3 separate regions of the Homo sapiens genome follow, and all the other regions are reported to be linked to region 1. The links are microRNA targets in miRTarBase. Many come from high-throughput screens and were not tested one by one. Region 1 holds a microRNA gene; each other region holds the end of a gene's coding sequence.

What was found. The annotated mature microRNA hsa-miR-6735-5p reads CAGGGCAGAGGGCACAGGAAUCUGA and lies in region 1 at 1,377-1,401, opposite strand. An mRNA with a match to its seed (bases 2 to 7 or 8) in the 3' UTR can be bound and repressed. Matches are read on the target gene's strand: a 7mer-m8 pairs with bases 2 to 8, a 7mer-A1 pairs with bases 2 to 7 and ends in A, and an 8mer does both.
Region 2: miRTarBase lists SDC2 as a target of hsa-miR-6735-5p. Seed matches in the 3' UTR shown: 7mer-m8 at 915-921.
Region 3: miRTarBase lists RUBCNL as a target of hsa-miR-6735-5p. Seed matches in the 3' UTR shown: 7mer-m8 at 2,120-2,126, 7mer-A1 at 1,773-1,779 and 7mer-m8 at 229-235.

What each region holds. Positions count from the first base shown.
Region 1 is chr1:43,446,690-43,449,944 of GRCh38, reverse strand. It overlaps MIR6735 (microRNA 6735), which reads right to left and starts at 1,406; the gene lies at 1,334-1,406. SZT2 (SZT2 subunit of KICSTOR complex) reads right to left here. Exons shown (of 72, transcript NM_001365999.1): 66 at 2,777-2,990; 67 at 2,247-2,400; 68 at 1,974-2,096; 69 at 1,461-1,866; 70 at 1,217-1,333. SZT2-AS1 (SZT2 antisense RNA 1) reads left to right here and starts at 1,301. Exons shown (of 2, transcript NR_046744.1): 1 at 1,301-1,842; 2 at 2,013-2,169.
Region 2 is chr8:96,609,042-96,612,296 of GRCh38, forward strand. SDC2 (syndecan 2) reads left to right here. Exons shown (of 5, transcript NM_002998.4): 5 at 344-2,749. The coding sequence ends at 507. Among named protein-coding and RNA genes, the nearest start is that of CPQ, 35 kb to the right of the region's middle.
Region 3 is chr13:46,340,531-46,343,785 of GRCh38, forward strand. It overlaps RUBCNL (rubicon like autophagy enhancer), which reads right to left. Exons shown (of 15, transcript NM_025113.5): 15 at 1-2,967. The coding sequence ends at 2,855. Among named protein-coding and RNA genes, the nearest start is that of LINC00563, 44 kb to the left of the region's middle.

The DNA of each region.
Region 1 (3,255 bases):
GTCCTCATCCTCGCTGGCTTGCTGGTCAGCCTGTCTGAGCTGCATCAGAATGAGGGGTAACAGTTGATCCTGGAGGCCCCACACAGAGCCTGGCACACTGAAGCCAATCAACAGAGAGTGCTGTACCCCTGGCACAACCTCCTTGCCTCCTGTCCTGGGACTCCTCTCTGACCACCCCTGGGATTGTCTTGTCGTCCCCTTATGTCCATCTGCTCCCTAACGCTCTGCTTGGTGATCCATCCCGGGATGATTTGCTCTCCCAAGGCTTCAGTTACCGCCTGTTCACAGAGCTGCTGCCTAGGACTCTCCTGAGCTCGAATCCCTGATGCCCACAGACCTTGCAGACAGTGAAGGGCCTATGGACCCCAGACTCAGCTTGCCCCAAGCTGGGCTTGTCACCCTTCCCCAAAACCCACTCCTGCTCCAGCCTTCCCACCACCCGCAGGAGCACCTGCCTCCATTCACAACCGCCGACACTACTGCAGCCTCATCCTAACTGACCTTGGCTTCTCTGGGAGACCCTTCCTGCACCCTGAAATGAATCCTCTGCACAAGCACTGTGCTGCAGGACCCCTCACCTGGCTCCACCTCCTACTTTCTCACTTGAAGTCTTCTCTTGTAATGCCTCCTCTCTTGAACCTCAGCTCTGGCTGGGCCCATCTCTGTGGGCTCCTTAATGCCCTGTGCTCGTGTCCACCACCACAGTTCTCTCTACCTGTCCTTTACAGCAGTGCTTTCACGCCTCAGTGTGCACACAAATCACCTGGGGAGACTGTCAACCTGCAGATCCCGAGTCAACAGTCTGAAATGTGGCCGGAGAGCCTGCATTTCAGCAAGCTCCCAGGTGCTGCGGCTGCTGGTCTGTGGACCACACTTTAAGTAACAAGGCTTCAAAGTCCAAGGGGTCCTTTCTGGGGCTCCAGCCTACTGACAAAGTTCTGACAGCTCCTTGGGTTGTCAGTTCCAGAGCCTGGCCCTCAGGATCTCAAGCCAAGGCTTGTATTCTTGGTGAGTCTTTGAGGGCAGAGCTGCTCAGAGAATCACATGCTGTAGCTCGATGCCCGGTACTGGAAGGGTTTTACATGTATCTGTGTAGTCCCGTTCTGTCTAGGCCTCCCTCCAGAGCAGAGCTTGTTTGGTCAGGCTGAGGGGCACATCTGTTTGGTGAGGATTTCTGCTGTGTTTCCCTTTTCAGAGGAAGCTCAAGGGGACTTACCAGGTACTGAGTTCCCAAGTCTGGGCTTTGGAAATGGCGACAGCTCTGGGGGAAGCGGCTTAGGAGAACTTTGATCAGGCTCTGGTACCAGGAGACCGTCATGGATAGGAAGCAGTCCTGAGGGAGGAGCCACAGGCCTGAGTCTTCTGTGCCAGTCACCTCAGATTCCTGTGCCCTCTGCCCTGGCTGCCAGTGGAATTCCTGGCACCTATCCCAGCTCTTTCGGGAGCCCACAGTTCCTTACCAGCTGGGGGTCGATGTCCCCAATGGATTTGGCATGGACTGCTTCTAGGAGTTCCTCCAGCTCTGCCAGGGCCAGGCGCCCCCCTAGCCGCAGTCGATCAGGCCCCGGTGGCTCCAGCAAGAAGAGGCGCTTCCAAAGGGTGTCCCGACGGCAGTGCCCTCCAGCCAGCCGCACCAGCTGAGCCAGCCGTGCTCGTGCCATGCCCACCTCTGCAGCCAGTGGTGGGAACAGAGGAGCCGGTCCAGGCGCTAGAATAAGCCCTGAGGCCTCCCCAGGGCTGCCAGCTGAACTCCCAGGAGCCTCTGGCTCAGGGGGCAGTCTGGGTGGCTTCCGGAAGCGGCGCATGTCAGCAGTGAGCCTGGGGAAGAGCTCTCGCTGGCTGGTGAGCACCACGAAGAACTGTAGCCTGGGGTGGGGAGCAGGGCAGGAGAGTGGTGGTTGTAGCAAGAGACACACAGGGCAGGGTGGGGCAGGCTGGGAAATGGGCATGTTCAAGGTAGGGGATCTGCTGACCGCAGAACGTGCCGCTCAGCCTCTCCTTGCTCCTCAAAGGGTGCAGCACAGTGACAGACAAGCAGAGACACATCAAAGTCATCCTGGTGTCGAAGTCCCTCAGAGTCCAGGTAGGAGCCAGAACTGTGCAGGACGGGTTGGGGAGATGTCAACTCTGGGGTTCTAATAAAACAAACCTCACCCCTGCCCAAGAAAACATTGGTCTCCCTACTGCAAGTATGTCCCAACCCCAGCTCCTGCAGCGTGCATGCTGGATGCCCCTCTCAGCCTTACCTGTGCCATGCCGACACCAGGGCATACTCGTTGTGTTCTGGGCCCCCTGGCCGGGCCATTCGCAATGGCTTCATGTGGTAAGAGCTGGCGTGATCAGCCACGTAGTTGTATAGCTGGTGGGCAGCAATGAGTGGTGTGGGGAGCTCCAATGTCCCTGAGGGATAAGTAACAGGAGACAGCAGACACTAAGCCTAGGACAGACACACTGGTCTGGTGGGGCACAGGGATGGGAGTCTTTAAGGCTCTGACTGGCAGGCAGAGTGGGTCTGCTTTCCTTAGGAGCTCCTGCATTCCTGTGGAACACTGAGATGGGACAGAAGTGACTCAGAGGGCAGGGGACATGTGACATGGGGTCCAAACTCTGGTAAGAAACAGACACAGGACAGAAACATGGGGACGTGGTATGTGTGACATGAGATGATTAACAACATGGGACCACTTGTCCAGGGAGGTGGTCCCACCAGCCCTGACCTGGAGGCACCTGTGGCCTGTTCTTTTTTGGGTTCACTGGCTTGCCCTTGGGCACTGACCTTGGTAAATGTGATTGCGGCCAAAGTGGGGTCCGTCAGGGTGGTGGGCCAGGAAGTGTCGCAGAAAGGTGGTGAGGTGGTAGCCGTGCCGCAGCACCAGATGGGCACCTAGCACGTGCTGATGCACGAGGCGCAGATGGAAGTCATAGCTGAACGAGTGCACGTGCATCAGGTCCCGCACCTTGTCACACTCCTCTGTGAACAGCATGGACAGCTGGGGAGGCAGCAGCAGGAGACAGGGTTAAGGTATGGCTGCACTGGCTGCCCAAAACACATTTCCCTCCTTCCGTGGGAAGAAGCACAAGATTTCCCCTGCTGCTGTGGCCTAGTGGAACGCCCTCTGCCAGAATGGTTTCTGTGGGAAGGCCTCCCCATTCTAGCCTCCCTTTTTCATACTGTATTGTAACTATCTCCATGAAACTAGGGCCATTTTCAGAAACTGGGCCATTTTGCTCTATCCCAGATTCCATCAGGGTCTG
Region 2 (3,255 bases), not on the chromosome of region 1:
CTCTGTTGAAAAAAAGCAGTTAGAAAATTAGAATATGAAATGTGAGTTCTGAAAAGACAAAAGTAGTTTTCAAGTATGGAATTAGTTAAGATCAAGGCCAGATTTTTCTTATCGAGGTTTTTGGGTGGTATTATTAACACTAACCAAAGAAATTACTGTACCTTCCTGAGGAGTTTCAGATTTGCATAGTTACCAGGTTGCTTCATTGAATCCAGCTTTTTTTTTATTGGGGTTTTCAAATTAAGCCTTTTATAAAAGTGTAAGTAGATTAGGCTTGACAATAAAGCTAATGTCTGCAACCCTTGAATCTCTTCTAAAGTAATCTTCCTTTTGGTTGTTTCAGCTGTCATTGCTGGTGGAGTTATTGGCTTTCTCTTTGCAATTTTTCTTATCCTGCTGTTGGTGTATCGCATGAGAAAGAAGGATGAAGGAAGCTATGACCTTGGAGAACGCAAACCATCCAGTGCTGCTTATCAGAAGGCACCTACTAAGGAGTTTTATGCGTAAAACTCCAACTTAGTGTCTCTATTTATGAGATCACTGAACTTTTCAAAATAAAGCTTTTGCATAGAATAATGAAGATCTTTGTTTTTTGTTTTCATTAAAGAGCCATTCTGGCACTTTAATGATAAAATCCCATTGTATTTAAAACATTTCATGTATTTCTTTAGAACAACATAAAATTAAAATTTAACATCTGCAGTGTTCTGTGAATAGCAGTGGCAAAATATTATGTTATGAAAACCCTCGATGTTCATGGAATTGGTTTAAACTTTTATGCGCAAATACAAAATGATTGTCTTTTTCCTATGACTCAAAGATGAAAGCTGTTTCATTTGTGTCAGCATGTCTCAGATTGACCTTACCAAGTTGGTCTTACTTTGTTAATTTATCTGTTGTCCCCTTCCTCTCCTCTGCCCTCCCTTCTTGTGCCCTTAAAACCAAACCCTATGCCTTTTGTAGCTGTCATGGTGCAATTTGTCTTTGGAAAATTCAGATAATGGTAATTTAGTGTATATGTGATTTTCAAATATGTAAACTTTAACTTCCACTTTGTATAAATTTTTAAGTGTCAGACTATCCATTTTACACTTGCTTTATTTTTCATTACCTGTAGCTTTGGGCAGATTTGCAACAGCAAATTAATGTGTAAAATTGGATTATTACTACAAAACCGTTTAGTCATATCTATCTAATCAGATCTTCTTTTGGGAGGATTTGATGTAAGTTACTGACAAGCCTCAGCAAACCCAAAGATGTTAACAGTATTTTAAGAAGTTGCTGCAGATTCCTTTGGCCACTGTATTTGTTAATTTCTTGCAATTTGAAGGTACGAGTAGAGGTTTAAAGAAAAATCAGTTTTTGTTCTTAAAAATGCATTTAAGTTGTAAACGTCTTTTTAAGCCTTTGAAGTGCCTCTGATTCTATGTAACTTGTTGCAGACTGGTGTTAATGAGTATATGTAACAGTTTAAAAAAAAAGTTGGTATTTTATAAGCACAGACAATTCTAATGGTAACTTTTGTAGTCTTATGAATAGACATAAATTGTAATTTGGGAACATAAAAACTACTGAATAAATCATGTGGCCTAATATTGAAAATGTCACTGTTATAAATTTTGTACATTTTTGATCAAATGTACATCTCCCCTTTGCTAACGGCCGTCTGCTCTCAAGGATGACGTGGGTTTGATTTCTAAGTGTTTCACAGTGTCTGTAAATCAAGACCAAAGAGCCTGTCGATGAGACTGTTTATTACCAGATTCACTTCTGAATTGGCCAGAGGAAATCTGAATGTATTATCCTGTGTGTGTCTAGGTAGAGATATTGGAAGGCTGCCAGGGGATTTCGAAGTTTGCAACCTTTATAGGATAACTGATGGCAATATTAAGACAGACGCCTGCTTTTGCAAATAACTTACAAGACTGTAAATTCCAAAGATCTGAATGGGGCTTTCCTGATGTTGGTATCTAAGGCTTAGGCCTATAGATTGATTTACCTTTGGAATTGTGCTCCAAATGTCTACTGAAGCTTAACCGAAGAACTAATAAATGGACTACAGTAGCTCACGTTACAGGGAAGGAGGGTAGGCAGGGAGGCTCTGTGTGTTAAAATGAGGGTCTCACTGCTTTAGGATTGAAGTGGCTGGAAAGAGTGATGCCTGGGGAAGGAGATGGAGTTATGAGGGTACTGTGGCTGGTACTTTCTGTACTAAACATTTCCTTTTTCTATTTTACCACTAATTTTGTTTTAAACTGTGAGCCGTCCAAGTCAGAAGAAGACAGCAAAAAAAGCAACTTTTCCAACATACAATTTACTTTTAATAAAGTATGAATATTTCATTTTGAGAACATTCCCTGGAATTGCCACATAATTCATTAAAAACATTTTTTTAAGCAACACTTGGAACAGTGTTTACTTTAAATCCTTAATGGCCTTAATTAATTCTCAGATTCCTGCCCCATCACTTACAGAACCAATTCACTTTAGAGTGACTAAAAGGAAACGATAGCCTAGCTTTCTAAAGCCACGCTGTGTCCCTCAATTACAGAGGGTAGGAATGGGTATACCTCTAACTGTGCAAAGCAGAGTGAAATTCAATTCATAGAATAACAACTGCTGGGAATATCCGTGCCAGGAAAAGAAAAATTTCTGGCAAATATTTTGTCACTGCTGTAAAGCAAAATATTTGTGAAAGTGCCAAAATAAAGTCTGTCATGCCAAAAGTAAATCATTGTATAGACTGACATCCAGTTTTCTTCAACTGTACACTTTCTGCTTAGTTTTTTTTTTTTAAGATGCAGTAAATAATACTATAAAAAGTGTTAGTAATGATTACTGAGTTCAGGAAAATTTTGGTAAAATGTAAATATTAAAGCCAATGTGAAAATTTCCTGTTTCCTTAACCACATGTAAACGATTTCTCTTGAGTGAATATGGCTTTGTGTTTGAGAGACTTGAGATAGTCACACTGTCCCATTTTCAGCCCGTAGGGGGAATAGGAAGCACTTGGGTTTTATTTTTGTTTTTCAGTTTTAGTTGCAGGTGCGTAGTACCTGAATTTCAGGATTAGGACCTGTTTAATAAAAGTGAACAAGATTATAAAAATTGCCATTTCTTAAGGGTTGATAGTTTCTCATCAAACGTTTACTGAATTTTTGTCCATGCACTTTTTTGCAAGTTAGACAAAATGTACTTGTTATGGATGTAGTCTGTTAGGTCTAGGAGAGTAAGCTAATTAAATAGAATATGATT
Region 3 (3,255 bases), not on the chromosome of region 1:
TGGCTTCCCCAGTGTCTGAGTCTATTTGTGTTGCTATAAAGGAATACCTGAGGCTGGGTGATTTATAAAGAAAAGAGGTTAATTTGGCTTATGGTTCTGCGGGCTGTACAAGCATCGCACCAATATCTGCTTCTGGTTAGGACTTGTGGCTGCTTCCACTCATGGTGGAGGGGAAGGGGAGCCTGCGTGTGCAGACTCCCCTTGTATGGAAACAGAGGAGGCAAAGAGAGGGCAGGGAGGTGCCAGGCTTCATAACAACCAGCTCTCATGGGAACTAAGAGTGAGAACTCACTCATCACCACAAAGGTGCCACCAAGCTATTCTTGAGGGATCCACCCGCATGACCCAAACACCTCTTATTAGGCCTACCTTCAACACTGGGGATCAAATTTCACCATGAGGTTTGCAGGAGTCAAACAAGCCAAACTAGAGCACCAAGTCACCATGGGTAGGTAGAAAGTGGCATATTTGGGATCTAATCTGAAGTTGTGGCCAATAATTCTCACCCAGGTCAACACACCAGACATCTTTGGGATGGCTTGCTCCTCCTCATCCTATAGCCTCTGCCTTGAGATGGTGTAACTTCCTCCCTGCAGTTGAGAATCATGACTGTAAATGACACACTACTGGAATTGCCCATGTGAAGAGTGCAGAGGCAGAAAATGAATCACTGACCTTTACAGCACTGCAACTGATGCCTCACAGTGGGTAATGGTCTGACCAAGCATTCATCTTCTTTCCGGCAGCCAAGGAAGAGTTGAACAGAAAACCCACACAATCAGGAAGACCCATTAAACAGCTATATATGCCACAACTAATTACTTCCTTATGGGGTGCTCCATGTGGGCTGAAGATCACTTCCCTAACAGGTGCCTTCCTGGGAAGAAGCCTCTATTATCACATTGGAGAGGAACAAAGTCTCAGACAAATCCCATACTGCAGTTATTTAAATGACCTCATTCTTCCTCAAAATAGAAAATCAAAAGCATCACTTCCTGGCAACTGCTGTGCACTCTTCCTTAATATCAAAGATATGTAACACACACAGGCTCATCAGTGCCTTACAAACATACAAACCCTGAGCACAGAGCCCTTCAAGCAATGCTTGAGCCATAGCAGCTGCCTTAAATCAACACTGATGTGAGAAAACACTCTGCCCAATGCCACTTCTGCAAGTTGGAGCAACACTTACCAGTTAAGGTTGTTTTTACTCCTTTGTCTTGAAAAGACACCACAAAAGAAGCAGGGCCTAAGCATGGGCTTTGGAGGCAGGTGGACTTGAATGTCAACCCCAGCTCCATCATGCACTTCCTGTGGGAACCTAGGAAAGTTATTTCTCTTCTCTAGGCCTCAGTTTCCTTGCCTGTAAATGGAGATATAGACATCTGCCTCAGAAAGGAATGTGAACATACCACTCTTACCCTTGATTCTTAACAGGGAATAGGAGCAATGGGCAAGAATGAAACATTGTTTGAAGTCTGGTTTTATTTATTCTATGTGCCTCTACACTTCTATAATACTTAGAAAAGATCTGGCTTAAATAATGGATGTGAGCACAGTTCTGGCAGAGGCACTGCGGATGAGAAAACAATTGACAGAATGAGAAGACTGAATGAAAAGAGATTGACAGAAGTCATTCATTTCTTTCATGTGCTCAGTACTATCCCATTGAATAAAACACACTCATACACATGGCTGGATGGGGTTAGGGGACAATCTGTGACGCTTTATTGCCTGCCTGTGCTGTCTGAGAAAATCAAGGTAGGTTTAGTTAGGGCATGTGAATCCCAGGGAATGTAATGCCCAAGCCCTAGGTTGCAAACCGTTCAGTCTAAAGGTATACCATGAAGGGACCCAGCCTCAAGGCCCCTTTCTCAAGTGGGAGAAAGTATATAGAAAGTAGAAGAAAAAAGAATAGGCTCACATGTTTCAGGAAAACATATAAGAACTATTAGAAAAAAGAAATTCATAAAGGTTTTGTGATTCATTTAACCTTATTAGTCAATGTCTATGATTTTAATGTTATTACTAGAATCACACTGTTCATTATTTCCCCCAGTTCGTTTAAATCTGCAAATACCTTATGTTCAGTTTTACATCTGTTAAAGCAAGATCCTCAAGGGCAGGGATGGAATTCTACTCACTTCTGCATCCCTTGACATTGCAGTGTGTGGAACAGAGATGACAAATACAGGTTCAATTTGTGCCACCTGAAAGAGTGCCATCTAGAAGCAGTTGCTTCAAACTGCACTTCAACGGGACCCACACGCCCTGCTAAGCAACTCAAACTCATCATGAAATAAATCTGCAGAAGAAATGTGTACTCTCTATTCAAACTCTGAAGTAAATAAAATGTGTATGATTGACACAATCACAAAATGGCATTTAAGTGGAAGTCTGCTTCCTGAAGAAATAAAAGCCAGAGCAAACAGATTTGGGGTCATATTTTTGTTCACTGAAAGGACCAACCAGTTTCATCAAACAAGCTTTAGAGAAAGAGAAACTGAGTAATTCATCTTGTCAGTTACAGTTCACATATATGCACACACATACAAACTGGCTCAGCATCAGTGAAACATAACTATTCAAATACAAAAGTATAAAAAACCTCTTTAAAAAACCAATAGCAGCCAAAACAGAACATTTGTAAACAAAACCACAACTATCAGCCCTGTGCTTAAACACAGAATCTGCATTCTTTTGAAACATTAAGTATATGCAATAAAGAGAATATAGACCATCTTTTTCCTTAATATACAATACCCAATATCTAAAACAATGTCACCAATAATAGACACAAATCGGTGTTATCATAAGGCATGTTGAACAGTCTTTTTCACAGTACTCAGGGGCATCATGTTGCTGCAGAGGCCACACTTTCCAGAAGTTTTCTCCTCGCTGTGATCCTCGCACACCGGGGGCACTCGGAGGACTGGAAGCACTGTTTGTGAAAGCAAGCCCTGCACGCTGCAAGCAAGGAAGAGAGCCGTTAGCAAACGGTCTATCTTGTTTTCTCACATTTCTGCAGACATTCGTCTCCATCCTAGGGAGGGAGAGGGGTCTGAATCCAGAGCCCAGAGTCTTCTAAAAAGAAACCAGCCAGGCTGAAACGCACGTTTCAGCAGGTCACATTTCAGCAGACCTGTTGGACTCTTCCAACAGGTCATGAACAGGAGGCTCAGAGAGCCTGATGTAACGGACACTGCAGTGCCCCCTGGATCTGCTCAAGCACTGAGGCAGGCGTTTCCCCAGCTG